2 separate regions of the Homo sapiens genome follow, and region 2 is linked to region 1. The links come from fine-mapping of genetic effects on plasma protein levels. Region 1 holds a variant in brackets. A gene starts in the other region. All regions are shown on their forward strands. Region 1 overlaps CACNG1 (calcium voltage-gated channel auxiliary subunit gamma 1). Region 2 holds the start of MB (myoglobin).

The links. PIP is the chance, under the fine-mapping model, that this variant and not a neighbour inherited with it causes the effect. The UK Biobank Pharma Proteomics Project read protein levels with antibody pairs (Olink). The fine-mapping took linkage between variants from a reference panel, not from the people measured, so its PIPs are less certain.
Region 2: MB starts here. The variant in region 1 is fine-mapped to the plasma level of the MB protein (UK Biobank, PIP 0.94).

What each region holds. Positions count from the first base shown.
Region 1 is chr17:67,049,738-67,065,400 of GRCh38, forward strand. It overlaps CACNG1 (calcium voltage-gated channel auxiliary subunit gamma 1), which reads left to right. Exons shown (of 4, transcript NM_000727.4): 2 at 4,259-4,333; 3 at 5,366-5,503; 4 at 6,308-7,060. The coding sequence ends at 6,534. Among named protein-coding and RNA genes, the nearest start is that of CACNG1, 13 kb to the left of the region's middle. RefSeq lists enhancers at 1,986-2,115, 2,186-2,265, 3,470-4,314 and a silencer at 15,195-15,556. The variant G/A (reference allele first, on the strand shown) is at 6,451.
Region 2 is chr22:35,608,625-35,624,287 of GRCh38, forward strand. It overlaps MB (myoglobin), which reads right to left and starts at 8,705. Exons shown (of 3, transcript NM_005368.3): 1 at 8,539-8,705; 2 at 2,260-2,482. The coding sequence starts at 8,633. RefSeq lists a silencer at 3,416-3,465 and enhancers at 13,444-13,959, 14,618-14,912.

The DNA.
Region 1 (15,663 bases):
ACAGCTCCTAAAAGCTCTGACCCAAGTGAACACAAGGAGTCCAGCTTTTGACATGGCATAGTTTGAGGGCAGCTGGACCAGAAGCTGGTGCAGTGGAGCAGACTTCTCAAGGTCCCACTTAGTCTTAAAATGTTGGAGGCTCAGTGGGCAAGAGTTGTCTAATTTTTCCAAATTAGACAGTCTTAGACTCCAAACAGTCTTAGAAGGACTTCCATGTACAAGATCAACATCCAAGACCAATTCCAATGCCTCCAGAATGAGAGTAGGAGCCTCTCCCAAAGGAGAGACTATGTGTTCTGAAAGTCCAAATGAACCCGCAAAGAGGCCATCCCCTGCCCTTGGGCTGGGTGAAGTGCTGCTTCTTTCAGACTCTGCCTCTTTAGGGCAAGGAGGCAGGTTGCCCCAGGGCCCACTTTGCCTAGTGCCCCATTTTCCCTACTGGTCCATCTTCTCTCAGTGCGGGAACTGGGATTGTATAAAAGAGCATGATACTACTGACCCCAGGAATTTCATGGGCTCACTTCACCACCCACAGAAGTCCATGCCAGAGGCCTAGGCCAAAGCCAGGCTTCTCCCATGGAAGAGCAGTGCTCTGAAGCTCTAGGGTCAGGTCTTGGAGATTTCCAGCCCATTTTATAAAATTCTTCAATCAGAGATGTGGAAGGAGACACAGCCCAGAGAAACCACTGTTGGGAGCTGATAGAACTTCTTTTACCAAAAGGCTAAAAACAACACTGACATCAATGCAAGTTAGAGGCTTCCTTGCACCCCTAAAGTACCAGTTTCTTTGGTTTTGGACAAATCCACAAAGTATCTTTGAATATATGAAAGTCTCCATGGACAGTCACTTGGCACACTGATACATTCTCAGTGATAACCCAAGGCATCCACTAATCCTGCCAGCTGTTCCAACTATCAAAGAAAGATCCCTATTAACTCAAGTTCAGCTTGGAGCTAAATGTGGCTTCTGCTCTAATTCTTTGAAACTGGCACACTACACATGGTTCTGCACAGTTACTGATGCCCTTAACCAGAACACTGGGTTAGCCAGACTATTCCATCCCCCAGTCAAGTCTGAGAGCTGAGTTCACCATATTTTTAATAAATAACCCATTTAATATTTTTAAACCGCTGAGTCTTACAGAAATAAGGAGATTAAAATCAGCATAAGCCATCTGCAGAGACAAAGGAGAATGGCACGACCTCAGAGTTCCTAACACCCCAGATCATCATCCTGGCATTGGAATCTTTGCTGACTTAGTCGGAAGCAAAGCTGCAATCCCTGAGCTTTGTGTAAGTGTGATGGAAGCCAGGGCAGCGGGGCAGAGAGGGGCATCCCAGAGGCAGAGGCAGGAAGACTGAGAGTCTGCACAGGACCGTCACGGTCCCTCTCCTCTTGACCCATGACTAAGATGGGTCCACCTCGGATGTCCTTCCTCTTTACGTTGCCCTGGATGCTCAGTTTCCCAAATAATATCCACCTAGACCCAGGAACAGGGCAGGGAGGGAAGGGGCTCATAGTAGGGTCTGTCCATCTGAACAGGACCCTGCACCCTCTTGAGTAACATGGGCAGATGCCTGGCCTGATTTGTCCTAAATGAGGCCTGGGTCTGACGTGCCCCCACCCCTACAGGGGCCATTAGAGACCATGAAAGGGTTTATGGTCTCCAATGGGCAGCCACATAGCCCAGGAGTGGATGTTTCTCTCAGGTTCAGGGCAGGAGACACCGGTCTTTTTCACATGCTAAGCCCAAGAAAGGGGAGAGGTCAGCCCATCAGTCCTCAGGCCCCCAGTTCAGCCATGTAAGAGTGAAGCTGAGGCTTCCTGTTACCCTGAGAAGGAATCCTACCCACTGGAGGCCCCCTCCCTCCATTTGAGGACACTTAATGGAGAAGAGGGAGGAGGAACACTGTACCTGGACCACCAAAAGAAAAGCATCCCCCCAGAAGCTCACAACCTGGCTCCTGCAGACACGTAGCCTACCCCTGTGTCTGAGTTAAGATCATTTCTATCCAAGCAGCCAGCAGCCAGGCGGAGCCTGGCGTTTATCTGGTGGGGATTTGGTGAGCCAAATGCTACCTGTGTGAGAGTCACCTCAGCAACCCACCAGGTGCAAACAGCTGTGCCCCCAGCAAGGCACTCCATGGCCCTCATCTCAGGGCCCTCCGCTGGGAAGGATTTTAACTTATGGCTTTTGAGCAGTCAGGGAGGCAGCTGACCATGAAATACACTTGAATTCAGTCAATTCTGACAACTGAAATTGGCCCTTCAAGAATGAAACAGAAACAGAAATGTTTCTTTGTCCAGAGGGAGACACATGGAGACTTATGACATAGCATGGGCCATTTTGAAGCAGTGATTCGAGAGATCTACAGCCAATAATCTAACAAATAGAAGAGATCTGCATTATGCTTTAAAATAGCACCGGATGCCCAGAGAGAATAGCAGAGCACCAATTCTGACATCACCACCAGCAGTCAGACACCCCAGGTAACGCGGTTCAAAAGGAAAGTGATTTAAATATAGAAGCACACAGAGAAGGCTGTTTATGCCAGGAATGGGTACTGCTGCTAAACCAGATCCCATCTCCAGGGGTCATTTGCTTCCTCAACCTCAGGAGAGGCAGCAGCCCTGGCTCTGGGGGGAAGGAGGGGCATGGTATGAGACCACAGGCTTAAGGTGCAAGAAGAATGATTTAGGTCCGGTTAAAGAAAGTCTTCATCCCAAAGAAAAGCCTTGGTATCACTGCAGGTACATTTCCAGAAAGAACTAGGCATCAACCGCCTTATGAGCATCTAAATGAAGCCTGGAAGTGAAGAAATGAATTGGCAAACTAGACACCATCTCAACTAGAGAAAGAGATGTTTTTCTATTTAAGGGTCACTGATCCACAGGAAAAGAAATCAATGAAGGGCCTCCACAAATAAAAAGCAAACTAATTTAGTTTTGGAAGGAAACATAATATAAAATAACCCATTCATCCACTTCCTAAATCAAGAGCAAAGAAGATAAACCGTATTTAGCAAGAAATAAGACTGTGCTTTTTTTTTTTTTGAGACAGAGTCCCACTCTGTCACCCAGGCTGGAGTGCAGTGACACGACCTCAGCTCACTGCAACCTCTGCCTCCTGGGTTGAAGCAATTCTCCTGCCTCAGCCTTCTAAAGTGCTGGGATTACAGGTGTGAGCCACCACGCCCGGCCTGTGCTTTGATTTTATAGTATACCTAGCTATGAGAGAGAGACTGAAAGAGAAAAATGGAAATGAAATTATATTTTAAATCAGCATGAATTTCCTTGTGCTGAGCCCCTCCCCTCTCCCTCATCAAATTCAGATTTGCGTTCCTACTGCCCACAGACTTTCCATAGCTTTTATGACAATTATCAGGTGGGCCAAGCGGCTTTGTGGGGGCAGGTCTCATCTGGGCTGTCTCGCAAAGACCAGGGACCCAGTGAAACCACATGATGGTCACATTCAGCCCTCGTAGGGGTTCCATCTGCATCCAGGCCATCCCAATGGCCACTCGGAAAAAGCCCTTTGCAGGGCATTTTAAGGGGCCTGGAGCAGGGTTCCCATCCTGGCTGCACATCAGGCTCTCCCAGAAAGCTTTTGAAAAACACTGTTTCCCAGGTCCCACCAATGAACCAGGGTGTGCCTGGATTCTGATGAGAAACACAGTCCCAGGTTTGGGGTTGATCCAGGGTTTCTCAACCTTGACACTCTTGATATTTTGGCCTGGATCATTCCATGTTGGGAGGACCTGTCCTGTGTGTCTTGGGATGTTCAGCAACGTCTGTGGCCTCTACCGGCTGGGTGCCAGGTGTACCCCTCTCACCACCACCATAACCCCAGGCATCGCCAAGTGTCCCCTGGGGGGGCAGAATCGGCCCCAACAGAGACTGCTGTTTGGTTCTTTGTTGATTGTGCACCCTGCACACCCTGAAAAATGGCTTGAGCCTGGGCCTCGGTTACCCTGTCTGCCTAATGGGGTGCAGAACCCACAGGCCGTCTGCCCTGCAGACTCATCCAGCCTCAGCTCCCTGAAGACCTCCCAGCCCTGCAGGCAACCTCATTATCCCACTGAGATGTTGTTCTAAGGGTCAAAGACAGATGTTTCAGCCCAGATTAAGGATCTGGGGAGAAGAGAGGCTGCCAGAGCCCCCTGCATGCCGAGCAGAATGACACCACGCTCTCTGCCAGGCCTCTGTCCTTGCTACGGGTTGCTCCCCTCAACTCACAGTCTGTCTCCTCCTTTGCAGAGAAGAACTGTTCCTACTTCAGGCATTTTAACCCCGGCGAGAGCTCGGAGATCTTCGAATTCACCACTCAGAAGGGTGAGCCTGGGTGGAAAGGGGTCTGGGGTGACAAGAGGGGACTTCTGTGTTGTGCACCACTGGGCCAGAAAGTCATTGGCAAAAGCACTGACTTCCTCACGCCTGATGAGAAGAAGCCTGTGGTGCATTTGAACAACAGCCTTGTCAGCTCCCCGCTCCGGAGGCCCCAGGCAGCCGCCTTCCATCTCCAGGGCCCGGAGCTTCCACACCTCGGGGCCAGGGAGCGTTTGCAGAAGCAGCACCTCCTGGTAGGCCCCTACACAAGGGCAGCTGTTGTGACGGGAGGTGTGGATGTGGAACAAATGCTCAGAAGCCCCGTGGTGGCTCTTGGTGGCATGTGATAGTTAGAGTCTGCAGGGACAGTCTGAGTCCCTCCCTGGCCTAGAAATCCCTCCCTGAGTACCAGGAGGGTGCGGTGGGCTCTGGGAGCTTTTCAGGATCCGCAGAGCTCAGACGCACACCCATTGTCGGGAGTACAGACCCGTGCCTGCCTGCGCCCAGACAGCTGCACACAGGGTGAGTGGGCAGACACACAGACACACACTGACACACACAGACACACACAACACAGATACACACACACGACACACACAAGACACAGACGCACAGAGACACTGACACACACGCATGATGACACACAAAATGACACACAGTGACACAGACACACACTGATACACATGCATGATGACACACAAAATGACACACAGTGACACACACAGACACACACTGACACACACGTACAATGACACAGACACAGAGACACACACTGACACACACGTACAATGACAGACACAGAGACACACACTGACACATATGCATGACACACAATGACACACACAGACACTGACACACACACAGATACACACATACAATGACACACACAAGACAGACACAGAGACACACACTTGACACACACACAATGACACACACAGACACTGACACACACACTGTGGTGCATGGTGTGGTCCCTAACGAGCCATGACAAGAGCTCCCATGCTGAGGCCGCATGCTGGGTGTCCCTTGTGTTTGCAGAGTACAGCATCTCGGCAGCCGCCATCGCCATCTTCAGCCTTGGCTTCATCATCCTGGGCAGCCTCTGTGTCCTCCTGTCCCTCGGGAAGAAGAGGGACTATCTGCTGCGACCCGCGTCCATGTTCTATGCCTTTGCAGGTAGACTGGGGGATCTGCCTGAGCGCCGGGGCCGGGGGACCATGTCGCGGGGGATTCTCCGCTCCACCCTCATGCCCACCGCGAGATTTGGGTGAGGGGCATTTCCCAGGCTCCATCCCCATCCAGGGGCAAACCTGGCCAGGCCATCAGCGACTCCAGGTGGGTTGGAGGGAGACAGAGCTTGGCGGTTTGTCCATTCCTCTCCACGACTCAACCCTCAAGGCCCCAAAGAAACTGCCCAGAGAATGATTAACAAAAGAAGGAAAGAAACGTGGTCACCTTTCTTTCTTTTTCTTGGGGGATGAGGAAGAGGGTCTCGCTCTGTCATCCAGGCTGGAGTGCAGTGGCACAATCACAGCTCACTGCAGCCTCGAACTCCTGGGTTCAAGGGTTCCTCCCGCCCCAGCCTCCTAGTAGCTGGGACTACAGACGTGCACCACCACACCTGGCTAATTTTTCATTGTATTTTAATTTTTTGTAGAGACGGAGGGCTCATCACTATGTTGCCAGGCTGGTCTCAAACTCCTGGCCTCAAGCGATCCTCCTGCCTCAGCCTCCCAAAGTGCTGGGATTACAGGTGTGAGCCACCACACCTGGCCACATGGTTGCCCTTCTGAGGGATGCAGGAATAGGGTGGTGGGTGGACAAATGGATCCTTCTGCAGGTTCCCATCTAGAACCTGCCTTGAGGCAGCTTTTCCCCCAAGGCAAGGTCACCGCCTCCTCCATGCACACAGGCTGGGATGGGGCTGGTGGCTACGGCAGACGCCCCTCGGTCCCTGAGCATGCCTGGCTCTGCCCCCAGGTCTCTGCATCCTCGTCTCGGTGGAGGTCATGCGGCAGTCGGTGAAGCGCATGATTGACAGTGAGGACACCGTCTGGATCGAGTACTATTACTCCTGGTCCTTTGCCTGCGCCTGTGCCGCCTTCATCCTCCTCTTTCTCGGC[G/A]GTCTCGCCCTCCTGCTGTTCTCCCTGCCTCGAATGCCCCGGAACCCATGGGAGTCCTGCATGGATGCTGAGCCCGAGCACTAACCCTCCTGCGGCCCTAGCGACCCTCAGGCTTCTTCCCCAGGAAGCGGGGTCTTGGCCTGGAACCTTCCAGAGAGGAGGCGGGAGCAATTTTAGCCCCACCCTGCTCCCATCTGCCCCCCTGCAACAGTCGCAGGCTGCTTCCTCTCTCTGAGTTCCTCTGGGCTGCCGCAGGCTCCCCTGGGAATAGAGCAAGACGTGAGTCCTAACCTGGCCACAGTTGGGGGAGGCAGAGCCAGCAGGTGGACAGGTGTTTGCAGGGGCCCAACTTCCCCTGGAGCTCAGAGGTGTCCCCACTGTACCAGCCTCTGATAAGCTGCCTCCAGTTGTCCTTTATGAACATTGCAGGGACAACCTGTGTTTGCCAGCTGGGTGTTCCGTGTAAATAGCCAGCCTGTCTCTTTCTCGGTGATAAAACACACCCTCTCTGGTGAGCCCAGCGTCCCCTCCTTGGCTTCCAGGAGCCCTGGGAAGCATTTTTAACTGGGTAGAATCTGACTGTGGCTTGAAATAAAAAGCTCTCAGAAAACTCATGCTTTCCTGGAGCCTTGCATAGAAATCGCTCGGATTCCCAGTCACATCAGGGGCTCCCCTGACGCCGAATGAGAAGGAAAGGCCGGTCACCCGGGTATGTTGAGGTCTTTTGTGGGGACAAGAGGGCAACGCACGTGGCTTAGAGGCTCTGAATTCCAACTCGTATCTCTAGGCCCTGAGATTGTTTTCGGGAGAAACTAGAAACCCTCTGATGAAGCAAGGGTGTTAAAAATAGGAGGGGTTATTTCTAGAGCCTGGCATGCAACGCACCTGGTGCCAACACAGCGCTAAAGCAGCCAGCCAGTGTCTGATTTCTGATGTTGGATTTTTCTTGTGAAGAACATCAGGAAGCAGGGCTTAGCAGTTAGACACTTAGGGCCACATGGAGAGCCATGATTTGCACTCTTCTGCCTTCCAAAACCCCGCAGTACTTGCCCAGGCTTCCAAAGTGGAGTTCAGACATGATCGGCAGATGGGATCCTTGCCTTGCACCCCGGAGAACCCACTGGAGTTCACGCTTCTAGGGCAGGGTTTGGCAAACTATGGCCCATAGGCCACACCTGGCCTGCCCCCTCTTGCTGTATGGCCCACAAGCAAAAGGTAGTTTTTACAGTTTTAAATTGTTAAAAAAATAAATAAAATTTTTTTTTTTTAAAAAAGGCCAAGCGTGGTGGCTCACGCCTGTAATCCCAACACTTTGGGAGGCCAACATAGGTGGATCACAAGGTCAGGAGTTCAAGACTAGCCTGGGCAAGATGATGAAACCCCATCTCTATTAAAAACACAAAAAATTAGCCGGGCATGGTGGCATGTGCCTGTAATCCCAGCTACTCGGCAGGCTGAGGCAGGAGAACTGCTTGAACCCGGGAGGCAGAGGTTGCAATGAGCCGAGATCACGCCATTGCACTCCAGCCTGGGCGACAGAGTGAGACTCCATCTCAAAAAACAAAACAAAACAAAAAAACCCCCAAAACAATCAAGGAACTGGGCATCACGGCTCACACCTGTAATTTCAGTAATTTGGAAGGCTGAGGCAAGAAGATTGTTTGAGGCCAGGAGTTTGAGACCACCCTGGGCAACACAGCAAGACTCCATCTCTATAAAAAATAAAAATAAAATAATTTACAGATAAAAAGAAGAAGAATATCTCATGACACATGAAAATGATAAGAAATTCACATCTCAATGTCTGTAAATAAAGTTAGATTAACACCAAGCCACGCCCATTCTATGGCTGCTTTCGTCACCATTGAGTAGTTTCAACAGAGATCTTCCATCCCGCAATGCTGAAAATATTTACTATCTGACCCTGTATGAAAAATGTGTGATTACGCCTGTTCTGGAGGAAAACTACAACCATCAGCCCCCATATCAACCTCTTACTGGTCCCATCTAAAAGCTGAGGGGAAGTTCATTATTTCAGTTCGCCTGCGGTATCTCGGGGGTGTGGGCTGGGCTAGGAGGGGTGTCAGAGGAGACTCACTCAAAGACGCAAAGATCCAGCCAGGAAACAAACTTGCTCCAGGTAAAGGAGAATCAGAAGATGACTGTCCTGGCCAGCCAGGGAGCTGGGGCCATGATTTATGAGTAAGAAGGAAGAGCGATAACTTCATCCCATTGATAACCATTTTGGAGGTTGATATTATTGGTGTTTTTCTTTTTTTCTTTTTTGAGACAGGGTCTCACGTTGGAGTACAGTGCCCAGGCTGGAGTACAGTGGCACAATCACAGCTCACTATAGCCTCGAGTTCCTGGGCTCAAGTGATCCTCCTACCTCAGCCTCCCAAGTAGTAGGGACTGCAAGCGTGCGCAGACCACACCCAGCTAATTTTTTTTTGTTTTTTGTTGAGACAGGGTTTTGATATGTTGCCCAGGCTGGTCTCTAACTCCTGGGCTCAAGCGATCCGCTAGCCTTGGCCTCCCAAATTGCTGGGATTACGGGCATGAGCCACCACACCCAGCCTTTTTTTTTTTTTTTTTTTAACAGATCGGAGTCTTGCTATGCTGCCCAGGCTGGCCTCAAACTTCTGGGCTCCAGATGTCCTCCTGCCTCAGTCTCTGGAGTAGCTGGGATTACAGGTGTGAGCCACCATGCCTGGCTCCAATATTATTCTTTTATTACTATTTTTACTTTTAGCAGAATCAGACTGGCATGCATTTTTTCTTTTCTTTTCTTTTTTCTTTTTTTTTTTTTTTCTTTAGATGGTGTCTTGCTCTGTCACCCAGGCTGGAGTGCAGTGGTGTGATCTCAGCTCACTGCAACCTCCGCCTCCCGGGTTCAAGCAATGCTCCTGCCTTAGCCTCCCGAGTAGCTGGGATTACAAGTGCCGGCCACCACACCCAGCTAATTTATTTTTGGTAGAGACGGGGTTTCACCATGTTGGCCAGGATGGTCTCGAACTCCTGACCTCAGGTGATCCACCTGCCTCAGCCTCCCAGAGTGCTGGGATTACAGGCGTGAGCCACCATGCCCGGGGCCTTGGCATGCATTTTCTACTTCCCCATGGATGCCTATGGGTCGGTCCCCCCAAAACACATCTGAATGGAATATCCACCAAACAGAATACATTCGGCTTCCCAGGCTTTTAACTCTTCCAAGATATACTTCAGCACAGCCAGAACTGCGATACAAACCAAAGGGTTGGAGGCTGGCCGCCAGAGAGCCACACATCCTGGCATCTGCCCCAGAAAGAGGCAACGCAGCAAAGCAAAATAAAGTTGACCAAACCAATGAGGGAAAACGTCTTACTCCCCACCCGCCAAATGCTGCTTGCCAGAAGGATGTCCACAGGGGAAAATGGTTGGCTTTGCCAGGGACTGAAGGCCTCACTTCAGGGTCCATGCAGGCCCTGCTCTGAAGGCCACCCAGAGCCCAACCACAGAACAAACAGTGCCATCTGCCCTGAAGCCTTGGTTGGCCTCAGAAGCTACTGGCTTCTCATTCCTTGCTGTGGGAACTGTGTGTTTTTTTGTTTTTTTTTTTTGAGACAGAGTCTTGCTCTGTTGCCCAGGCTGGAGTGCAGTGGCATGATCTCAGCTCACTGCAACCTCCGCCTCCCAGATTCAAGCGATTCTTCTGCCTCAGCCTCCTGAGTAGCTGGGACTACAGGCGCCCACCACCACACCTGGCTAATTTTTGTACTTTTAGTAGAGACGGGGTTTCGCCATGTTGGCCAGGCTGGTCTCGAACTCCTGACCTCGGGTGATCCGACCACCTCGCCTCCTGGAACTATGTGACTTTGACCCACAGCACACCTTGATGTCCTGTCACACTTGCAATTTCTCAGCGTTTTTTGTTTTTTTATTAATTTTATTATTATTATTATTGAGACAGAGTCTTACTTGCTGCCCAGGCTGGAGTGCAGTGGTGCGACTTCAGCTCACTGCAGCCTTGACCTCCTGGGCTCAAGCGATCCTCCTGTCTCAGCCTCCCGAGTGGCTGGGACCACAGGCACGTGCCACCACACCCGGCTAATTTCTGCAATTTTTTTTTAGAGACAGGGTTTCGCCATGTTGCCCAGGCTTTCTCAGCGTTTTTACATCCATCATCTTCCGTGAGGCAAAGAAGGCAGCAGAGGCAGGACCAGCAACTAGTTCATCAAGATCCAGACTTAAGTGTGATTTTTTAAGAACTGTGGTAAAATACACATAACGTAAAATTACCATCTTAATCACATTTTCGTGTAGAGTTCAATCACGTTAAATACACTCGCATTGTTGTGCAACTCTGAACACCGTGCATCTCCAGAACTCTTCGTCATCCCAAACTGAAACTCACAAGCACTAACTCTGCGTCCTCTCCTTCCCACAGCCACTCTTCCACTTTCTGTCTCTGGGAGTTTGACTCCTCTAGGTACCTCGGGATCAGCGGAATCATGGAGTATTGGTCCTTTTGTGACGGGCTCATTTCCCTCGACTGCTAATGCCTTTAAGGTTCATTTGCACGGTACCAGGTATCAGAACTCCCTTCCTTTTTCAGGCTCAGCAATATCCCACTCTACGTATTCCCATATTTTGTTTATCCACTCATCCACTGATGGACGCTGGGTTGTTTCCAACTCTTGGCTCTTGTGATTTACTGCTGCTATCAACACGGGTTCATGCTCTGCTTCAGGCCCTGCTTTTGGTTGTTTTGGATGCACTGACTGGGACATTTTTAAAAAATTAAAATTAATGCAAAATCTCCACAATTAACACCATATCAAAACTATTAAGTAGGTGCAAACGTAATTGCAGTTTTTGCCATTGAGAGGAATGGCAAAAACTGGGCAGATGTGGTGGCTCATGCCTGTAATCCCAGCACTTTGGGAGGCAGAGGCGGGTGGATCACTTGCGGTCTGGAGTTCAAGACCAGCCTGGCCAACATGGTGAAATCCTGTCTCTACTAAAAATACAAAAAAAAAAAAAAAAACAGCCAGGCGAGGTGGTGGGCACCTGTAATCCCAACTACTTCAGAGGCTGAGGCAGGAGACTCGCTGGAACCTGTGAGGCGGAGGTTGCAGTGGGCCAAGATCCTGCCACTGCACTCCAGCCTGGGTGATGGAGCAAGACTCCATCTCAAAAAAAAAAAAAAAAAGTAATGGCAAAAACTGCAATTATGTTTGCACCAACCTAAATTAGAACCAAGGCTGCTGTTTTCCCACCTGTCTGATGAGGGCCCTTACCAATCCTCACTTGGCCTCTGCCCAGGTTCCTGGGAGAACCAAGAGATGGCTCCCTCTCTCTCTGGCCAGCACACGGTAGGACCTGCTCCAGTGGCTTGGTGCTTAGTTCCTCCTTAAACTGAAAATTTCAAGGATCTCTGTGTACCTCTATTTTTTTTTTCTGGCTGTGCCGGTAAAGACGGATTTTAATCACAGCCTATCGCAATATTTCCCCTGCCAGTGTGACTTGTTCCATTTTGACCAAATATTTTATTTACAAATCCATTTCTAATTTATACCCTGCCCACTTTCAGAAATGATTAGAAGTGGAGACAAGGTATTAATAAACCTATGATGTGGAACATATCTATTAAACCAATGATTGGTATTCAGGCTGGGATGCAGCTGCCCCTGGCTTCCCCAAGCCTTCATTTCTCAGTCTCACTCAATTGCAACCACTGAGGCCATAAATTAATCCCCACACAAGGCATTGATCCTGCACATTGGAGAAAGTTAATTAAGGTCATTGCCATTACAAGCAGCGATACTTTCTATTCTTTTGGCTTTGCTTCTGACAAGAATTTTTGCCTAAATGTGAAAGCCTGGACTTTTTGGAAATTTTCGTCATTTAGGGGATATGACTTTCATACACAGCTAGCCCTACCTTACTGCTACATTATTATTATTATTATTATTATTATTATTATTATTATTAGAGACAGAGTCTTGTTCTGTCGCCCAGGCTGGAGTGCAATGGCGCAATCTCGGCTCATTGCAATCTCCGCCTCCTGGGCTCAAGCAATTCTGCCTCAGCCTCCCAAGTAGCTGTGACTACAGGCACGCACCACCACACCCGGCTAGTTTTTGTACTTTTTGTAGAGACGGGGTTTCACTATGTTAGCCAGGCTGGTCTGGAACTCCTGACCTCAAGTGATCCACCTCGGCCTCCCAAAGTGCTGGGATTATAGGTGTGAGCCACCGTGCCCAGCCTTGTACTTTTGACCTCTGCTTCCTTCAAAAAATTCTCCAAATTTTCCCCCGAATATTTCCGTTGTCCAATGTTTGTGCTTCTACCACCTGCCCTTTAAACTTTGGTGTTTTCTGCCAGGTCTCATCTCACATCACAATTTCTAGGAAATCCCATTCATCTCCAGGACATCGGTTACCTGTGACCATCATAAGCCCCTGCCAATCTCTCATTCAGGTATCAGACCCGGTGTGTTGCCTTGCTTTCTGCAGAAACTTTGTTCTCCGGAGGTTCCAGGCCACCCCACGTGCCTAAGTCCAAACCTAACCCATGGCTTTTTTTTTTTTTCTTTTTTTTGAGGCAGTTTCACTCATGTTGCTCAGGCTGGAGTGCAATGGCTCCGTCTCAGCTCATTGCAACCTCTGCCTCCTGGGTTCGTGATTCTCCTGCCTCAGCCTCCCAAGTAGCTAGGATTACAGGTGCCCGCCACCATGCCTGGCTGACTTTTTTTTTTTTTTTAAGTAGAGATGGGGTTTCAGCATGTTGGCCAGGCTGGTCTCGAACTCCTGACCTCAGGTGATCCACCCACCTCCGCCTCCCAAAGTGCTAGGATTATAGGCATGAGCCACTGAGCCTGGCCCCAACCCATGACTTTTCTTAACCAAACCGACTCTGCCTTTTTTGTTCCCTCACTTTGATGGGCACCCTATGTACCTATGCCCCCAAGCCAGAAGTTGCTGTCATTTCTTGGACTCCTATCGTGCTCACTAAGCCAAGTCTCGCAGATTCTGCTTCTGAAATGACTCCCAAATCCATCTCCTCATTTTCGTTCTTTCTGTCACTGCCTAAGGGCTCTCTGACCCTCTCGCTGTCACTGGTGAGCACTGACTGCTCTGGAGAACACTGTCTCTCAAACATTCCAAGCCAGCTGACATCCCTCCCACACAGGGCCTCCTTCACTTAAACAAACACATGCTTACTGAGTATATTCACTTTCCATGGATGCTGTAGCAAATAACGGAAATGTAGTGGCTTAAAATAACACAAACTTATTCTGCTAGTTCTGGAGATCAGAAGTCTGAAATGAGTCTTATGAGGCAAAAATCAAGGTGTCTGCGGGGATAGTTCCTTCTGGAAGCTTCAGGTGAGAATTGATCGCCTTGCTTTTCCTGTTTCTGGAGTTAGATGGCGCTCCTTGGTTTGTGGCTGCGTCACTCCAATCTCTGCTTCCATCATGGCGTCTCTGTCTCTTTACTTTGATTCTCCTGCCTACCTCTTAGAAGGGCCCCTGTGATTACTACACTGGGCCTGCTCAGAAGATCCAGGAGAATCTCTTCACCTCAAATCCTTCACTTAGGCCGGGCGCGGTGGCTCACACCTGTAATCCCAGCACTTTGGGAGGCTGAGGCGGGTGGATCACGAGGTCAGGAGATCGAGACCATCCTGGCCAACACGGTGAAACCCCATCTCTACTAAAAATACAAAAAAATTAGCCAGGCGTGGTGGCGGGCGCCTGTAGTCCCAGCTACTCGGGAGGCTGAGGCAGGAGAATGGCGTGAACCCGGGAGGCGGAGCTCGCAGTGAGCCAAAATCATGCCACTGCACTCCAGCCTGGGCGACAGAGCAAGACTCAGTCTCAAAAAAAAAAAAAACACAAATCCTTCACTTAAGCACACCTGCCAAGTCCCTTTTTCCATATAAAGAAGCAGGTCTCACAGGTTAGGAAGTGGACATCCACGCAGAGGTTCTGAGGATTCGGATGGGGACGTTTGGGGAGGACCACTGTTCTGTCTACCATGCTGATGATCAACATTGCGTGCCAGGCTAGGCACTGTGCTAAACTAGAATAAAACAAGGAATAAATTACAGTCCTGTCCTTCAGGAACTCAGAGTTCAATGGCAGATGATTTTAAAGTAAAGTGCTGGGTTACGTGAGGTGGCTCACTCCTGTAATCCCAGCACTTTGGAAGGCCAAGGCGGGTGGATCACCTGAGGTCAGGAGTTCGAGACCAGCCTGGCCAACATGCTGAAACCCCATCTCTACTAAAAATACAAAAAGTTAGCCAGGCGTGATGGCGGGTGCCTGTCAGCTACTCGGGAGGCTGAGGCAGGAGAATCGCTTGAACCCAGCAGGCAGAGGTTGCAGTGAGCCAAGATGGTGCCACTGTAGTCCAGCCTGGGCAACAAGAGCGAAAGTCCATCTCAAAAATTAAAATAAAAATAAAAAATAAAAAGTAAAGTCCTATGAGATTTGAGATGAGGACTAAGCTCTATTTTTCTATCTTGCTCAAATTCCTACCTAAGGGGTCTAAGGAGTCATGCCCTACAAATCATAATCCTCATCGGATGGGTTCTATTTGACCCTATATATTGTGACTTACTTTTCAATCTGACTGGCATAACATTATGAGACAAGGAAAAAAATATTTAACCCCAAAATGTATTTCCTTGCCATACCTCGAAATTACCCTGCAAAGTCTCTTGTGGGAAAAATCCACATTCTATAGAGAATCCATTTCCCCCTTTGTTTTCCTTCCTTTCTTTCCAGATCCAGGAGATAATCAACTAAGAGCCAGGCACCCTTTTAGGTCTGATAAGAAACATTTTAGACCAGCTGCAGTGGCTCACGCCTGTAATCCCAGCACTTTGGGAGGCGGAAGTGGGCGGATCACCTGAGGTCAGGAGTTTAAGACCAGCCTGGCCAACACGGTGAAACCCCATTTCTACTAAAAATACAAAAATTAGCCAGGTGTGGTGGCACACGTCAGTAATCCCAGCTACTCCGGAGGCTGAGGCACGAGAATTGCTTGAACCTGGGAGGCAGAGATTGCTGTGAGCCGAGATCATGCCACTGCACTCCAGCCTGGGTGACAGAGCAAGACTCCGTTTCAAAAAAAAAAAAAAGAAACATTTTACAATCTGCTCTCTCTCTGAAGTCTGTTATCCAAGAGATTCCTCTGCACAGTAAAACTTGGTCCCCACAATCCT
Region 2 (15,663 bases), not on the chromosome of region 1:
CAAAACAAAGTGGGGGCTCAGGGTGTCATGGAGCAAGCCCTGTCCTTAGAGAACTTGAGAGAATCAAGTTCCAGGGCCACCTATGCCCCGACTCCATGTGTGACTTCACCCACCCAGATGGCCTGGTTGGGCCCCCAGCTCAGACTTTCTGGAGTCCATGGCAGAGCCACTCATATCTAGAAAACAGTGGAACGGAGCCACTGCATAATTGAGAAATGGAAACACTCTCGGCACCCACCACCCTGTACAGCCCCTCAGTCCCTCAGAGAGACAATCTGTCCACAGGTGAGGTGGAGACTGTCTTATGAACAGCGCAGAGCGAAGGTCCACCGTGAGGGGGAAAAGCAGACATCTGGGCTCTGTCTCAATTTTTTGCAGAGGTTATGCATCAGATTAAGCATGTTTTAGGGAGACCTGGGTTCTAGTGGCCAACTGGTTGTGATATCTTGGCTGCATGGTTTTTTCTATCCAACACTCGGCTTCTTCCTCTCTAGAGAGAGAACTCAGTCATTGGAAGTGTATGGTGAGCCAAACACGTGCCAGTGGGGCACAGAAATGGTAGCCCCTAGGGAGCTGAGTGTCTGCTGGGAGACCGCTGGGCAAAGAGACAAATTATCACACAGCCTGGCAGTGCCATGACCGGAGATGAAGATAAAGTGCCATGGTGCAGGGAGGGGCTGGCAGATGGAACCGCTGAAAGCCTCGTGGGCCTGGGGTTCCAAGCAGGGGAGATGGCTTCGCACTGGGCCTTAGTGGATGAACAGGGATTTGCAGAGAGAAGATGGGCAGGCAGGGACGGCCTCACATGCAGGGTTGTCTGTTCACGCTGGTGATGTGGAGCAGTTGGGCAGGCAGGACTCTGCGCAATTGTGGGGTGGGGTGCAAAGGTCGAAGTTAAAGAGGGGTGGCGGTGGTTGTCAATGGGTGATATTGTGCCACAGTGGATTCAGAGCCTGGTTCCAGAGTACCATGGATCTGACTGTACCTCCTGGCTTATCAGCTGTGTGACCTTGGGCAAGCTACTTAAACCCTCTGAGCTCTCAGTTTCCAAACCAGCAAAATGGGGATGAGAAGGGTACTTGCCTGGGGCAGAGACTGCTAATTACGTCCACAATATCCATTTCCCTTTCTTCCTTGGTAACAGAACACTAGTTGTATTTGGAGGGGTGATAGACTACCTTTCCCAGCTTCCCGTGCAGACAGGATGGCTCCGTAACTAACTTCTGGCCAATGAGATGTAAATAAAATTGTTGGATGAGATTTCTGGGACTCCTTAAACTCCTCAAAAGAGAGCATTCCTCTCTTTCTCCTGCTTCCAGTTGGGAATATAGAAGAGGTGGCTGGAGCTCTTGCAGTCATTTTGGCCATGAGGCAACTTTGAGGATGGATGCCATGTGCTAGGCATGGCAGCAAATGCTCACTGTGGCCCATCCCAGCGGGTAGCTATCACCACATCCTAATCCTCATGGCTGCACCAGACTTCCTGCTGTTTCTACCCTCGGGGGATGCACCTGTCCCTGTGGTCCTTCATCCCCAGCTCCCTCCTCTCCCCAAATCGCCTCCTCCCACCAGTTATAGACACACAACCTGAAGCCCAGGCTCCTGCCCCCAACCCTGATCCACCCAACTTTCCAACCCATCTCAGGAGGTCCAAACCAATTGCTTGTGCTGGAAACCGAGGTCCTGTCTCTTCATCTGTGAAGATGCTGGAACCAATAGAGCCAACCTGCTGGTCACCCCCACCCCAAATTGAGCCCCACTTGCTGAGCTCCTGCCACATAAGTCCTGCATGTACCAGACTCCCAGTGGCACAGCAGTTAGGGGCTGGGGTTCTGTAGTAATAGAGACCTGCGTTTGAATCTTGGCTCTGCCATTATCCACCTCCTGTGACCGTGGACAAGCTGCTTAACCTCTGTGAGCCTCAGTTTCCCCATCTATCAAGTGGATATGATAATGGTACCTACCCATGGAGAGGATGCAAATTTTGCACCCAATATCCCCTCTCCCTTTCCTCTTTGGTAATAAGATGTGAATTTGGCATACTAAATTAAAAATGCTAAGTGTGTTCATTCTCAACAATCCCAGGAGGAAGGCAAAGTGGGTGGCAGTCCCCTTTACAAATGAGAAACCTGGGGCACAGAGAAGAGTGGCATAGGTCATCCCACAAGTTAGTGGCTGAGCTTGGACTCGAACCCAGATCCCATTGCCCCACCCGAGGCCTTCCCCGCATCCTCCCACCTGCCCAGGCTCTGCTCCTACCTCCAGGTACTTCACGGGGATCTTGTGCTTGGTGGCATGCGACTGTGCCAGGGGCTTAATCTCTGCCTCATGATGCCCCTTCTTCTTAAGGATGCCACCCAGGGCGGTGAGCACGGTGGCACCATGCTTCTTTAAGTCCTCAGACGCCTTCATCTCGTCCTCTGACTTCAGGTGCTTGAACTTGTCAAACTTCTCCAGAGTCTCTGGGTGACCCTTAAAGAGCCTGTGGGCACAGGGAAGGCTGGAGTCGGCATGGGAGGTGCGGTGTGAGGTCTGGGGGCAGCCAGACTAGAGTTCAAGTTTAGCTCCCTGTCTTCCCAGCTGTGTGACCTTGGGCCATTCACTTCACCTCTCTGTGCCTCAGCTTCCTCATATAAGGGATGGGGATAACTTGTCCCTACTTGAAGGATTAAGTGAGATAGTGTGTGCTATGTACCAACAGGGTGTCTGGCACATAGTGAGTGTCATATAATTCCCATTTTACAGATGTGGAAACCGAGGTTCTGAGGCGTAAAGTCACCAGCTCACTATTGCAGGGGTGCTGTCCAGAGAAGCCAGGCTGGAATGAGGTCTGAGTGACCAAAACAGCAGTTCTAGTCCACGCTGCGACCATCTCTGCAGCTTCCTGCCCAGGGATTGTCCTTCAGCTGCTTAAATACCTCTAGCTACAGGAGGCTCACTCCTACCTGTGAGGGCCATTCCACTCCAGAGCAATCCTCACACTCAGAAACCTCTTGCTTGTTTTGAGCCCAAGCTGTGACTCTCTGAACCTCCCAGTCCCCTCACTGTGCAGATGACGAAGGGTCCTGGTGGGAGCAACTCAACCCAGCCCTGAGACAGGCACCCACTCCTGCCAGGCACTCAGTGAGGTGCCCCAGAGGCCTCTGCTGGGACTCTGAGCAGCCACCTCCAGCTTTAGACCTCGGTCCTTCCTGCCCACCTCCAACTTTAGACCTTGGTCCTTCCTGCCCACCTCCAGCTTTAGACCTCAGTCCTTCCTGCCCACCTCCAGCTTTAGACCTCAGTCCTTCCTGCTGTGAGCAGGTGGGTGCTGGTTAAAGGGAGTCAGACCTGCCCTCTGGGTAGGAGTGAGTTTCCGCCTTTTACTCATGGAAGACCACAGAGATAAGTGGCCAAGGTCACTTGGCTAGCTAGCGGCAGAGCCCAGACCTAAACCCAAAATGGAACAGTTTCATAACTCCCACCCTTTCCCTTGTGCCACAGCTGAAATGTTTGGCACGGGCAACCCTGTCTGCCCAGGGCTCTCTCTCCTGTCTAATGGTTTCAGTTCCTTGAAAAGCTCCTCTTTTATGATACCCAGGCTCTGTGACATCCTTGTAAAAGTACACAGTATGTATTGTGGCCACACTCCAGTTTGCGCCCTGAGCCACCATGCCCAGAAGTTGTCACAAGGAAGCACCTGATCCCCGTAGTCTCCATCCCAGGGTTTTATGAGGAGGGTATTTCACAACCAGGATGCTGAGCTCCTCAACCTGAAAATGAGTTCATGGTTTTTTTGTTTTTTGTTTTTCTTTTTTGAGATGGAATCTGGCTCTGTTGCCCAGGCTGGAGTGCAGTGGTGCAATCTCTGCTCACCGCAACCTCCACCTCCTGGGTTTGAGCAATTCTCAGAATTCTCCATGTTAGGCAGGATGGTCTCGATCTCCTGACCTTGTGATCCGCCTGCCTCAGCCTCCCAAAGTGCTGGGATTACAGGCGCCCAGCCATATTAACTGATTTTAAAATCCTGATGGGGTAGACGCCATTTTGCAGAGGAAGAAACAGAGGCACCGAAAGACTAACTAGCTGGGGATTTAACCCAGGCAGTCTGGCTTCATGTCTATACTCTTGATGACTATTCGGACTTTGTTATTGTTACACAGAGATATTTACAGGCAAACTGATACCTACATGGACATGTATCAACACCTCACACGTGTACATGCATGCAGGCTCTCACAGATGTGTGTGCACACTCACATATGGGCCTGCACACTCACACAGAGGTACACATAAATATATCCCAGCACACGCCATACTCACCTGCACACACACACAGAGACACGCACAAGCCTGAACCACATACACTCCCTTCCCCCATGTTGGGCATGGTCTGCCGCCGTGCCCAACATTGCCACCTCGCTCCAGGACCTTATCCAAATCCTCGTGCGTCACTGACGGCTTGTCTCTGACACCTTTCATCCAAGGGTCCCTGAGCTCCTGACTATTATTATCTGGCGACAATGATCCTTGAACTCCCGCCTGACAGATGCAAGACCTGGCATGCACAGGCGATGGTCAGAGGTCAGGACGCTGAAAGCAGACTGTCTGAGGCAGAGCAGGGCCAAGAATTTGGGCCACAAGGCAGCTGGGGGTCTCAGACATTTTGGGGCCTGCCCCTGCCCTCTGATATCTAGGGAAGAGAACATGGGACTGACAGTTACGGAAGCTGAGTTCCGGTCCCAGTTCTGGCGCCAATGTGCTCTGTGATGTTGAAGTCACTTAGCCTCTCTGGATCATTGCTCATCCATATGTAAACCAAAAGGGTCTAGACCCGCCAATGCCTTTCTTTCCACTCAACACCAGACAGCCAGGGAGAGAGCTCATATTTACTTTATTAATATTTTTTTGAGACACGGTATTGCTCTGTTGCCCAGGCTGGAGTGCAGTGGTGTGATCTTGGCTCACTGGAGCCTCAATCTCCTGGGCCCAAGTGATCCTCCTACCTCAGCCTCCCGCGTAGCTGGGACTACAGGCACACACCACCACGCCCAGCTAATTTTGTTTATTTTTTGTAGAGAAGGGGGGTCTCACTATGTGGCTCAGGCTGGTCTCGAACTCCTGGACTCAAGCGATTCCCCGATCCTGCCTCCCAAAGTGCTGGGATTATAGGCCTGAGCCACCCCACCCCACCCCATATTTACTTTAAACAGCAGAGCAGAATCGGGCTAATTTGTCTCCCCGCAAGATCATTCCGGCACCACACAGCTGCCTGCCTCCTGTGGGCCCAGGCCTTGCAGCTAGGAGCCCCCCAGGCAGCCACAGAAGGCCATTCTCCTGGATTTGCCTGATCCGGAAAATGAACAGATGAAAGCCCCTCAGCCTGTGGAAATGGACGGAGGGCGTTTGCTCTAGTATTTCAGAAAGCCCCGCTGGCCTGTGTTTCCAGCTTCAACCCTGCTGTCAGTGGGCCTGGTTCATCAGACAGATCTTCAGTCCAAGTCAGAGAGAAGGGAGGCCATTTTCCTGCTGTTCTCTGAACTGAGGCCCAATTGGACACTCACATGGAACATGGAGCACATTGTCAGATCCATGAACACCCCTCTGGCTCTACTAGAATAAAAGAACCAGAGCGTGGGTGGCAGCCCGTCTTGCGTGTGGCAAGGTCATGGGGCAGTATAGCATAGTGGTCAAGAGCAAGGATTCTGGGCCGGGCTCATTGGCTTGTAATCCCAGCACTTTGGGAGGCCAAGGCGGGCAGATCACCTGAGGTCAGGAGTTCGAGACCAGCCTGGCCAACATGGCGAAACCTAGTCTCTACTAAAAATACAAAAATTAGCCAGGCATGGTGGCATGCACCTGTAATCCCAGCAAGACTCCATCTCAAAAAAAAAAAAAAGGAGCAAGGATTCTGGATCCAAGCTGCCTGAATTTGAATTCCAGCTCCTTTCTTACTTGCTGTGTGACTTGGCGTAAGTTACTTAACCTCTCTGTTAAATGTGGTGATCATAATCATATCTACCTCATAAGATTGTTGTCAGGCTTCAGTGAGTGAAACACTTAAACAGAGCCCAGCAATCAGTATGTGCTGAATAAATGGTTGCTGTCTTTCTCCTCCTCATCATCTCTACCATTATCATTATCATTATCATTATCATCACCATCACCCAGGAATTTTTGGTCCTGCCTGTGGCTGCCATTAACCGGTGGAGACTCTCAGGCCCAGTTCCTCCCTGTAATGAGAAGTAGTGACCACCACTGGTGATTTTCAAACATTTTATGACCTTGAAATCCTTTGTTCCCCCCGCTCCCCAAAACAGCCAAAGTAAATAAAACAAAAAAGGTTTGAGTAAAGAAAGGAAAAACAGGGGTGTGGAGCCCACTCAGCAGCCCCCTCCCTTCCGAAGCCCCACTCCTGGAGCCAGAATCTCCAAGTGACCTTCCAGCTTCTGTGTTCTAGAATTTTATGTTTGTGTACGTGCAGTGAAGGCCTCAGTGTTTTACAGACTGGGCTTCATGGAATTTGCCCTCTTTTACAATCAGAAGATTGGAGACATAACCTTTCAAGGTCAGTTAGAAAATCCAGAGTCAGTATCTAGAACAAAGTCAAGATGCCAACTCTCACGGGTGGCATTTGCAGTCCTGGGCATGAGCCTCCTCCACCCTGCCCCCAGGGAGGCCATCCTCCCTGTACCCCAAATACTGAGAGGGCAGAACCAGCTGGCACAGTCTCTGCATGTCCCACAACCTAAGACGTGACAGGGCACCAGGCCTCTGGGACCTTTCAGGGACCAGCAACCCTAGGCATTATGTCTTATCCCTGGCTCCCGGCCCCCGGCAAACCTCCGTGATCCTCCCTGATGATGCAACACCCTGAGTCTCTTTCAAGACGTACAAGTCACTGCCTTAGGTCTGGCAGCTCCCAAATCACCTTGGAAAGACCTCTGCTCTGCAAACTCTGGTCTCCTACCTCCACGCCTGACTGTCCTGCCTCCTCGCCAAAGGCAAAAGTGCATCAAGGACTCAGAGAATTCTAGGGCATGAGCGTGGGACGGGATCTCGGAGACCATGGAAGACAATCCCTTCGCTCAACCAGCAGAGAAATAAGGCCCAGAGGTGGAGAGACTTGTCCAAGGTCACATGGCATATCTGTGGCCCAGGAGTTGATGTCAATTTGTGTGTGTGTGTTGGTCGGGGGAGCACTTTGTGCAATCCAACAGGGCCTGTTGCAGCCAGATGACAGGGACAGGAGAAGAAAGACATAAACACACTACGATGCCATTACAGTCAACAGAAAACTCAACTCTTCTTCCTCAAGTGTTTCTAGCACGGATCACCAACGGCTCAAATTTTAGATAACGGAGCTTCCAGGACCAGCCATGCTCCCGAGGTAGACGGAAGCTGGAAATGGGTAAAGCCCAAGGGAGACCCAAAGGACGACGGAGTGGAAGAGGAAAATTGGCTCTGGCTCACAAATAAGGAGAAATTAATCTGCAAATTAAAGTGCCAAAGACAATCCATTCACTTGTGGCAACCCCGGCGCCCACTTCCTTCCTCCCGTTGGCAGAAACGTTGATTCTTAACCTATTAGACTTCTGAGGGAACCAGCTCAGAATGGTGAGGGAAGGGGCCAAGAGAAGAGTGTATCACCTTTGGGATAGAAGGCAACGAGGAGATGAGCTTCTATGTACAAACCACAGCCACCCTCTATTTACAAACCTCAGAATTTTGTTTTCTTTGGTGTATTCTGGAATCCCTTGTGGTAGAAGGCAGGATATACTTGCAGACCACATCATTCAGACCTCTCAAACTAGAGACATACTCAACATCGAAGGTCACTAATGAGCCTCTATCTTCTGTTCTCTAATTGCAATGCTTTGAAAGGTCCCTAGCCTGGGCTTCATCAGTAATAGCTACTAACATTTCTAGGACTCAGTATATGCCAGGAACCATGCCAGGCCTCTTGCATGCATTATTTTATTTAATTCTCACATCTCCTCTAGGATATAGATATTAGGATATCCCCTCACTGTACAGGAGAGGAAATTGAGGCTCCGAGAGGTTGAGTACTTTCCCAAAGGTCACCCAGTGGCTCAGTGGCAGAGCCAAGTCTAGAACCAGATCTGTCTCCCCTTGAAGAGCATGTCTTAACCTTGACACTTTAAGAGCATTTAATGAGCTGTGACTCTGGAAATGTCCTCCCCTTCTCAGTCCCTTTTTGTCCTCATCCTGTAAGAGAGGTGGCTGTACAAAATCTCTCAGGACCCTTGTTAACTCTGACTGTCTATAATTCTAAAATTCTTCCTGGTGGACTCTGAGCATCCTAGGTTTGATTCTCATGCTTCCTCCAGCTGCTGACATCAGCCTGAAATGGCTCCTTTCCCTCTCCTGAGTCCAATCCCTGACACTTAAAAGCAAAGAAAAAGCAAGTGACCGTTCTAACACCCTTAACTAATGCAGCCAACTGACCTACCCCACGTGCAAACTTTCCACCTTGCAGCTGAACACCCTTGATCTTAGGGTGTGGGTGGCAGGGGCAATGGAATCTCTTCCTTTTACCTGATGAGGACTTCCTGCCCATGGCCTGGGATGTCAGCCTCCACCTTCCCCCAGACGTTCAGCACCAACTGCCATTCCCCGTCGCTGAGCCCCATGGCGCAGTCTGAAGAAGACAAAAAGAGCAAGTATGGGCTCACTGGGTGTCCTGGCCCCAACAGCTGGGGTTTGAGGCTGCCTGGTCCCAAGGGCGTTTTTATACCTTCTGGGATGCTTGACAAAGATCGCTCAATGGCTCGCTGTCCCCCTCCCCTGCCCTCCTTCACTTTCTCTCTCTCATCCAGGGAGGGTCTAATCTTTTCCTTTCTCTAGCCCTCACATGGGAAGCTATTTTAGGGCAGGTGCCATTGTGGCGAGGCAGGACAGCTCAGGCCACAGGGGGTGGGGTGGTTGTGCGTGTGGAAAGAAGGGGAGGAGGTTGGGCACTGTCTGGACTCTCATAGCCGACAGAAAGGGCACCACAGAAGCCGACGCCAGCAGCCTGAAACCCAACGCTCCCTGCGGTCAGCCCTCCCAAGAGGACCTGTCATGTTTCTAAGCTTGGCCACCAGGTGCCCCGGCTGGCCCCAGGACAGTCCTGGCCATTCGCAACCTCTCACGCACCTTCTGCCCCTTTGCCAGAGACCCCTCACCCAGCCAGAAGTGACAGAAAGGAACCGGATGGTTTTGTGCTTATAGCCAGGTGGTCCCAGGCAAGTCCACAATCTCTTAGAGAACTCCTGTTTTCATGACCCTGCTCAAAGGTTTCCCTCTGAAAAGTTTTTCTTGACATACTCCTTTGAGACACCACTAATTGCTTCCTCCTTTCCTTTCTTTGTGTAAGTTCCTGTTGCATTGCTTCCCAAAGGGCATCCTATTTCCTGGTTTTCATGCCATCTTCTCCATTAGGATAATAGCAGCCAGCACTCACAAGAGACTTTGCTGGGTGCCAGGCCCTGTCCCAAACACTTGGCATTTGGTAACTCATTTAATCCCCGCAAGACCTCCCAATGTGATAGGTACTGACATTATCCCTATTTAATTGAGAGAAAGTAGGGAAACATCACTGATGTACAACTAGTCGCTGGCAGAGTTGGGATTTGAACTCAGGAAGCCACGCCCCTTTCTTTGCAGTTTTCAGGAGGGCAGGAGCTCTGTTTTATTAACCCACGTATCTCTTGGGCCTCACATGGTGCTTTGTGCCAAGTTTGAACTGAATAAATGTTTATTGAGTAAATGGGTGGATGGTTTTGCAAAGAAAGAGAGTGGAGGATGATTAGCCTTATCTTACATCCATGCATCCTCCTTCAATCCATTCAGGTATTCAACCATCTATCCATTTATCCACTTGTCCATCCAGTTACTCATCCATCCATCCATCTGTCATCCCTTAATTCATCCATCCATCATCTCTTTGTCTATCCATGCATTCACTCATCTATCCATCCACCACCCATCCATCCAACATCTATCAATCCCTCCATCTATCCGACATCCCTTAATTCATCTATTCATCTATCCATCATCTCTTTGTCTATCCAGGCATTCATTCATCTATCCATCCACCCATCCATCCAAAATCCACCAGTTCCTCCATCTATCCATCTATCCATCCATCCATGTGTTCATCCATCCATCCCTCAATTCATTCATCCACCCATCATCCCTCCATTCATCCATCCACCCATCCCCTCATTCATCCATTCATTATCCCTCCATTCATCATCCCTCCCTCCATCCATCTATCCATCCATCACCCACCCATCCCTCCATCTATCTATCTGTTCCTCCATCCCTCCATCCATCCATCCACCCATTCCCTCATTCATCCACTCATTATCCCTCCATTCATCATCCCCCCTCCATCCATCTATCCATCCATCATCCACCCATCCCTCCATCTATCCTTCTATCCATCTGTAACTCCACCCATCCATCCATCCCTCTCACAGTGATAGAGCACCTACTGTGTGTCAGACACTGCTACATGCTGAGGATAACAAAATCAAATAAAACACCTTCCTGTGTTCAAGGAACTCAGAGTCTTTTTAGGGAGATAACTAAGAGGAATGAAAATACAGTACAGTTTGTTTAGTGCTATGATCAAGGTAGGCACAGGCCCTTCCTTCCATCTGCATAAGACTATACAGTTTACAAAGTGGCTGCTTGGCAAGATTACATCTAATCTTTACAACACCTCTGTGAGGTAGCGAGCACCACCCCGCTTTACAGCTGTGGGAGATGAGATTCAGAAAGGATAAGCCAGTGTTTGGGCCATCCTGGGTCTGCACTGGATTTGTCAGTAATGACTGCCCCACCTACACAGCTTTTTGAAGATAACTGCCCTGCCCCAATCTTGCTGAGGTGCAGGTGTAGCCAGTCATGTTCTGGGACACACAGTTCTCCCGCAAACCTGCTGCCAGTCACAGCCAAGCTGAGAAAGCCAATGTCAGGGCTCCATCTGAATAGTCAGCATCTACTAGCTCTGCCAGTCAGATCCCAGCTTCAGAATGTGAACAGAGATGTTTGGTAAGAATTGGACAAATAATAGGAAATGTAGCTAGAAAAAGAGTTAAATTCAAAGAATCCCCAAACTTGGAGTTCCCCAGTGCAACTTTGGGTCAGAACGCCCTCTGTGTGGGTCTCTAAAGCCTGGCTGGTGACCATTCTAGGATTGCCATGAGCCGCCACTCCCTGGAGGAGCCTTGTGTCTCCATTCAGTGAGTCCTGTGTACTGAGTCGGCTGACTCCTAGCGACCAAAAGGGTCAGAGGCACCGGCTGCACCTCTGGCGCCCCTTCCCTAGTGACCATTCCAGAAGTCAACCCCAAATGCTAGGCCAGCCGACCTCCAAAGGCCCATCTCTTTAGCAGTGGAAGAAGCAGTAACAAAATAAGTAGCTAAAATGCCATGGGGGGCCGGGCGTGGTGGCTCACGCCTGTAATCCCAGCAATTTGGGAGGCTGAGGTGGGTGGATCACAAGGTCAAGAGATCGAGACTATCCTGGCTAACATGTTCAAGCCCTGTCTCTACTAAAAATACAAAAATTAGCTGGGCATGGTGGCACGAACCTGTAGTCCCAGCTACTTGGGAGGCTGAGGCAGGAGAATCACTTGAACCCGGGAGGCAGAGGTTGCAGTGAGCCGAGATCGCTGTACTCCAGCCTGGCAACAGAGCGAGCCTCCATCTCAAAAAGAAAAAAAGAAGCCATGGGGATGCCAAAGGGGATCTCATTCATTCATTCAGTCAGTCAGTCATCTGTTTGTTCCTTTGTTCATTCATTCATTTGAAAGCCCATTACTGAGGCCCCAGTCTGTGCCAGGCCCAGCCTCAGAAGGAAAGACAACTCTGAGAGGGTCTGCCCCGGTCTCAGACTCTCAGCAGTTTGACCCTTACTGCTGGTCACTCGCTGGAGGTGAGTCCAGGGTGTGAGAGAGGAGGGCAGAAAGAAGGAGATGGCATTGAGCTGTGCCACATCTGACCTGGGGCCCCCTGCCTGGTGCGCTGGGGAAGGCCAAGAGGCAGATCTGAGACTCCTGGAGATTGAGACGCAATGTGCGGTTTTCAAATGCTCTCTGGCCTGTGCCCTCCCGAGAGTGTCAGAACACCCCTGAGGGTGCGGGGCAGGGCAGGGCTGATTACTACCCGAATCCCAGCTCTTCTCCCGTCTCTGGCCTCCTGAGTTGTCTGGGGATGGCCTGAGCATTTAAAATCTCATCAACCCATTACTGATGCTGAAATGTTTAATATGAAGCTATCACCCGCTTGGCAAGCGCCCCCATTAACTGGCATGCTCATGGAAACCTGTAGCTTTGAAGTTGATGGACCTTTTAAGTTTTACCATTTAAGCTAATGGGAAGGCACCGACATCTGTTTGTACTCACACATCTCTACAACAGAGCAGCGTTACCTCACAGTTGCTATGGCTACCTGGAGTCACCAGCTCTGTTTGGGGGCTATTATTATCCCTGTGACAGCCTTCATTATGGCCAGGGCAGAGAAGCTGCAGACACATGATAGGAAAGCCAGGCTGCCTTTGTGTGCAAAACTTTCTACAGCCTTACACGCTCATGCTACACACACGCACACACACGCACGAATGCAGGGCACATTAGTCTGATACCCAGTGGGGCAAAACTGGATCCCACCAAGTCAGACCTCCTCTTTTTCCCTTTCATATCACAGGATCCTTTGAATCCAAAACTGAGACTTGTAGAATCATCCTCAAGGCTCCCAATTCTGGAATCTTGAGATCCCAGAATTAAAATTCTAGAGTGTCAAAGTCTTCAACTTTTCAGCACCGGAGAAACTTGGGTTCTAGATTCCAGACTTATAGAGAGCTAGAAGCAGAGAAATCTAGAATTATAGGGCCATAGTATCTTGTGACTAAAAGAGGCCTTCAACGGTATTTTGTCCAATTTCCCACTAAACATAGTTTTCCCTACAGATCATCATCTGGCATCTGCTTGAATACTCCTGGGAGTGGTGAGCTCACTACCTAAAGCTTTAAAAATCCTTTTTTATGTCGAACCAAAAGATGCCTCCATGTCACGTGCACTTCCTTGCGGCAGCTCCGCCTGCTCCTTGGGGATATAGAGGCCCAGCTGAGTCTGCCTCACAAGAGAAGGAGCAGGCTCACCCAAGACTTTTCTTGTCCAGACTGAACATCCCAGGACTTCCACTGAGCACCCTCCCCAGGCAAGGCAAGTCGGGGGCCTCAGTCTGGTGGAGAAAGACGGGCTCTGCCATCTTCGGTCTCCAGCCACTCTCACCTCTGGTCACATGCACACAAAGAGAACGCTATAGCAAAGGGGATTCCAGCACCCACCTGCACAGGTTTGAGCCCCTCAGGCAGCTGTGCACCTGGCCCACAGTTTTTATGGTCAGAAAATCCAATCTAGGTGACCTAGGAATTTGCTAGCCCTTGGACAGCTGACAATTCCCTTTGGTAAATCTGGGCTTAAGACACCACCAAGGGAGATCAAAGATGTGGCAAGAAGGAGAACTCTGGCTCCTCAAAGCCAGGACTCCCCACGATCTTCACTACTCTCTTCCTCCTCCTTCTGGGAACCAGCCTTTGGAGGCCAGTCTGGGCAGTGCCTCCCTCCTGCCAGCAGGCCCTCCCACCCCACCCCCAGCTTAGCTTGTGCCTCCCTGGCAGAGTCTACCCTCCTGGACCAGCGCCAGGCCAGGGCTCAGAGCAGGGCTGAGGCCTGGGAGTTGCAGGACCTGCTCAAGGCCCTTGATGGGGCAGCAGAACCCCCAAGCTTGCTCCAGACTCCCAGGAACCCACCCACCAGGGCTGCTCCTCTCCAGCCCCTCAGCATCCATCATACTGACCACAGCTCCCCTTCTCCCCAGCTGTCCTCGCAGAGCCTCCAGCCAAGCGGCCAGGGCTGGGGGTGGGGAGAGGTGTCTTATAGCAGCCGGGGAGAGGCACAGGGAACTAAAAATACAGTTTACATGGCAAGGCTCCTCCTCTCCCTGCAGGCCCAGAGGGGCTTATTGGAGGAGGGCTGGCAGGGACACAACATCCTAATCCCTTAGTCAACAGGTGTGGCCTGGGACACCGACCTGCCTCCCCCCTCCACCCTCCCCAGCCTTGGAGGCTCCGAGTGGCTCCTCCAGCTCCACCATCCACCTGTCACCTGGACAGAGACCAGCCCCGCCTCCACAGTCACCTAACCCCACATCCACCCATCCTCCCCTTCCTTCAAGGCCCATTGCATAGGAACGGCTCCCCTGCCAGGACTCCTCCCACCCCGCTCTACCCATTCCCAGCAGATGTGCCCTCTTCCCCACTCTGGCTCCAGCATGGGTGCAGCCTTCTCATCTCTCTTGCTTTGGGGTGCACCTGTCTGGACTGGCTTCTCCCCATTTCTACCCTGTGAGTGCCTCAGAGGCAGGAATATAAAAGCCACAAACTCATATTGTACTTAGTGCACACCAGGGACACCCCTCCTCCCAGCAGCCCTTTCTTTTGCAGGAGACACTTTTACAAGCGTCACTTTACACTTGAGAGAACTGAGGCACAGAGAAGTTAAGTAACTTACCCAGAGTCACACAGCGAGGAAATACCAAGCCCAAGATTGGGACCCAGGTAGTCTGGCTTCAGAGTCTCTGCTTCATGGCTAAGAACTGGTCTAATTTGGAGTCCTTCCCCCTCACTCTCTCACCTGCTCTACAGTACCTAGCAAAGGACCAGGCCAACATGCTCTTTGATTGTTTATTTTTGGATTGAGTCTGCCCAGGGTTTTGGCTTGCTGGAGGCAAAGGCAAAGACAGTCGGTGACCTTGCCCCAGGGCTGACAACGGGTGCCCTACTGCCATCTAGTGGCAACAAGGAAAAAAGCCTGCACCTCTGCCCTTCCATCTGGGCTCTCCAGTCCCTCAACCCAGCCAGTGGGGAGGGGTCTTTTTCTGTCTCTATATTCGTTATATTCATGGCGCCTTGCTTAGAAGACCATGGATGGCTTGCCAAATTATTAGAAGATGAATTGTGATCTTTTAATATTGTGATCCAGGAAAAGTGGCATAACTTTCCAAGGGCGCTTTTTTTTAAATCTGTAAAATGGAAATTTTGAAAAGAATAACCTACCTCAAATGTCACTATGAGGACTGAAAAAGGGAGCACTGGCCAGGCGCAGTGGCTCACGCCTGTAATCCCAGCACTTTGGGAGGCTGAGGAGGGAGGATCACTTGAGGTCAGGAGTTCAAGGCCAGCCTGGCCAACATGGTGAAACCCTGTCTCTACTAAAAATACAAAAATTAGCCAGGCATGGTGGTGCACTCCTGTAGTCTCAGCTACTCAGGAGGCTGAGGCTGGAGAATCGCTTGAACCCAGAAGGCAGAAGTTGCAGCGAGCCGAGATCACACCACTGCACTCCAGCTTGGGTGACAGAGTGAGACCCTGTCTCTAAAAATAAATTAAATAAATAAATAAATAAATAAATAAATAAATAAATAAATAAAATTAAGAAAAAGGGAGCACTGAATGTGGTGGATACATAGTGATAAAAGAAAAACTTCAGCCAAATTAAATGTAAAGGAGTTTAACAGAGCAGTGAATGATTTGCGAGCAGGGCAGCCTCCCGAGCCAGAGTAGGTCTGGAGACTCCACAGCTAAATAGTGGAAGATTTATGGACAGAA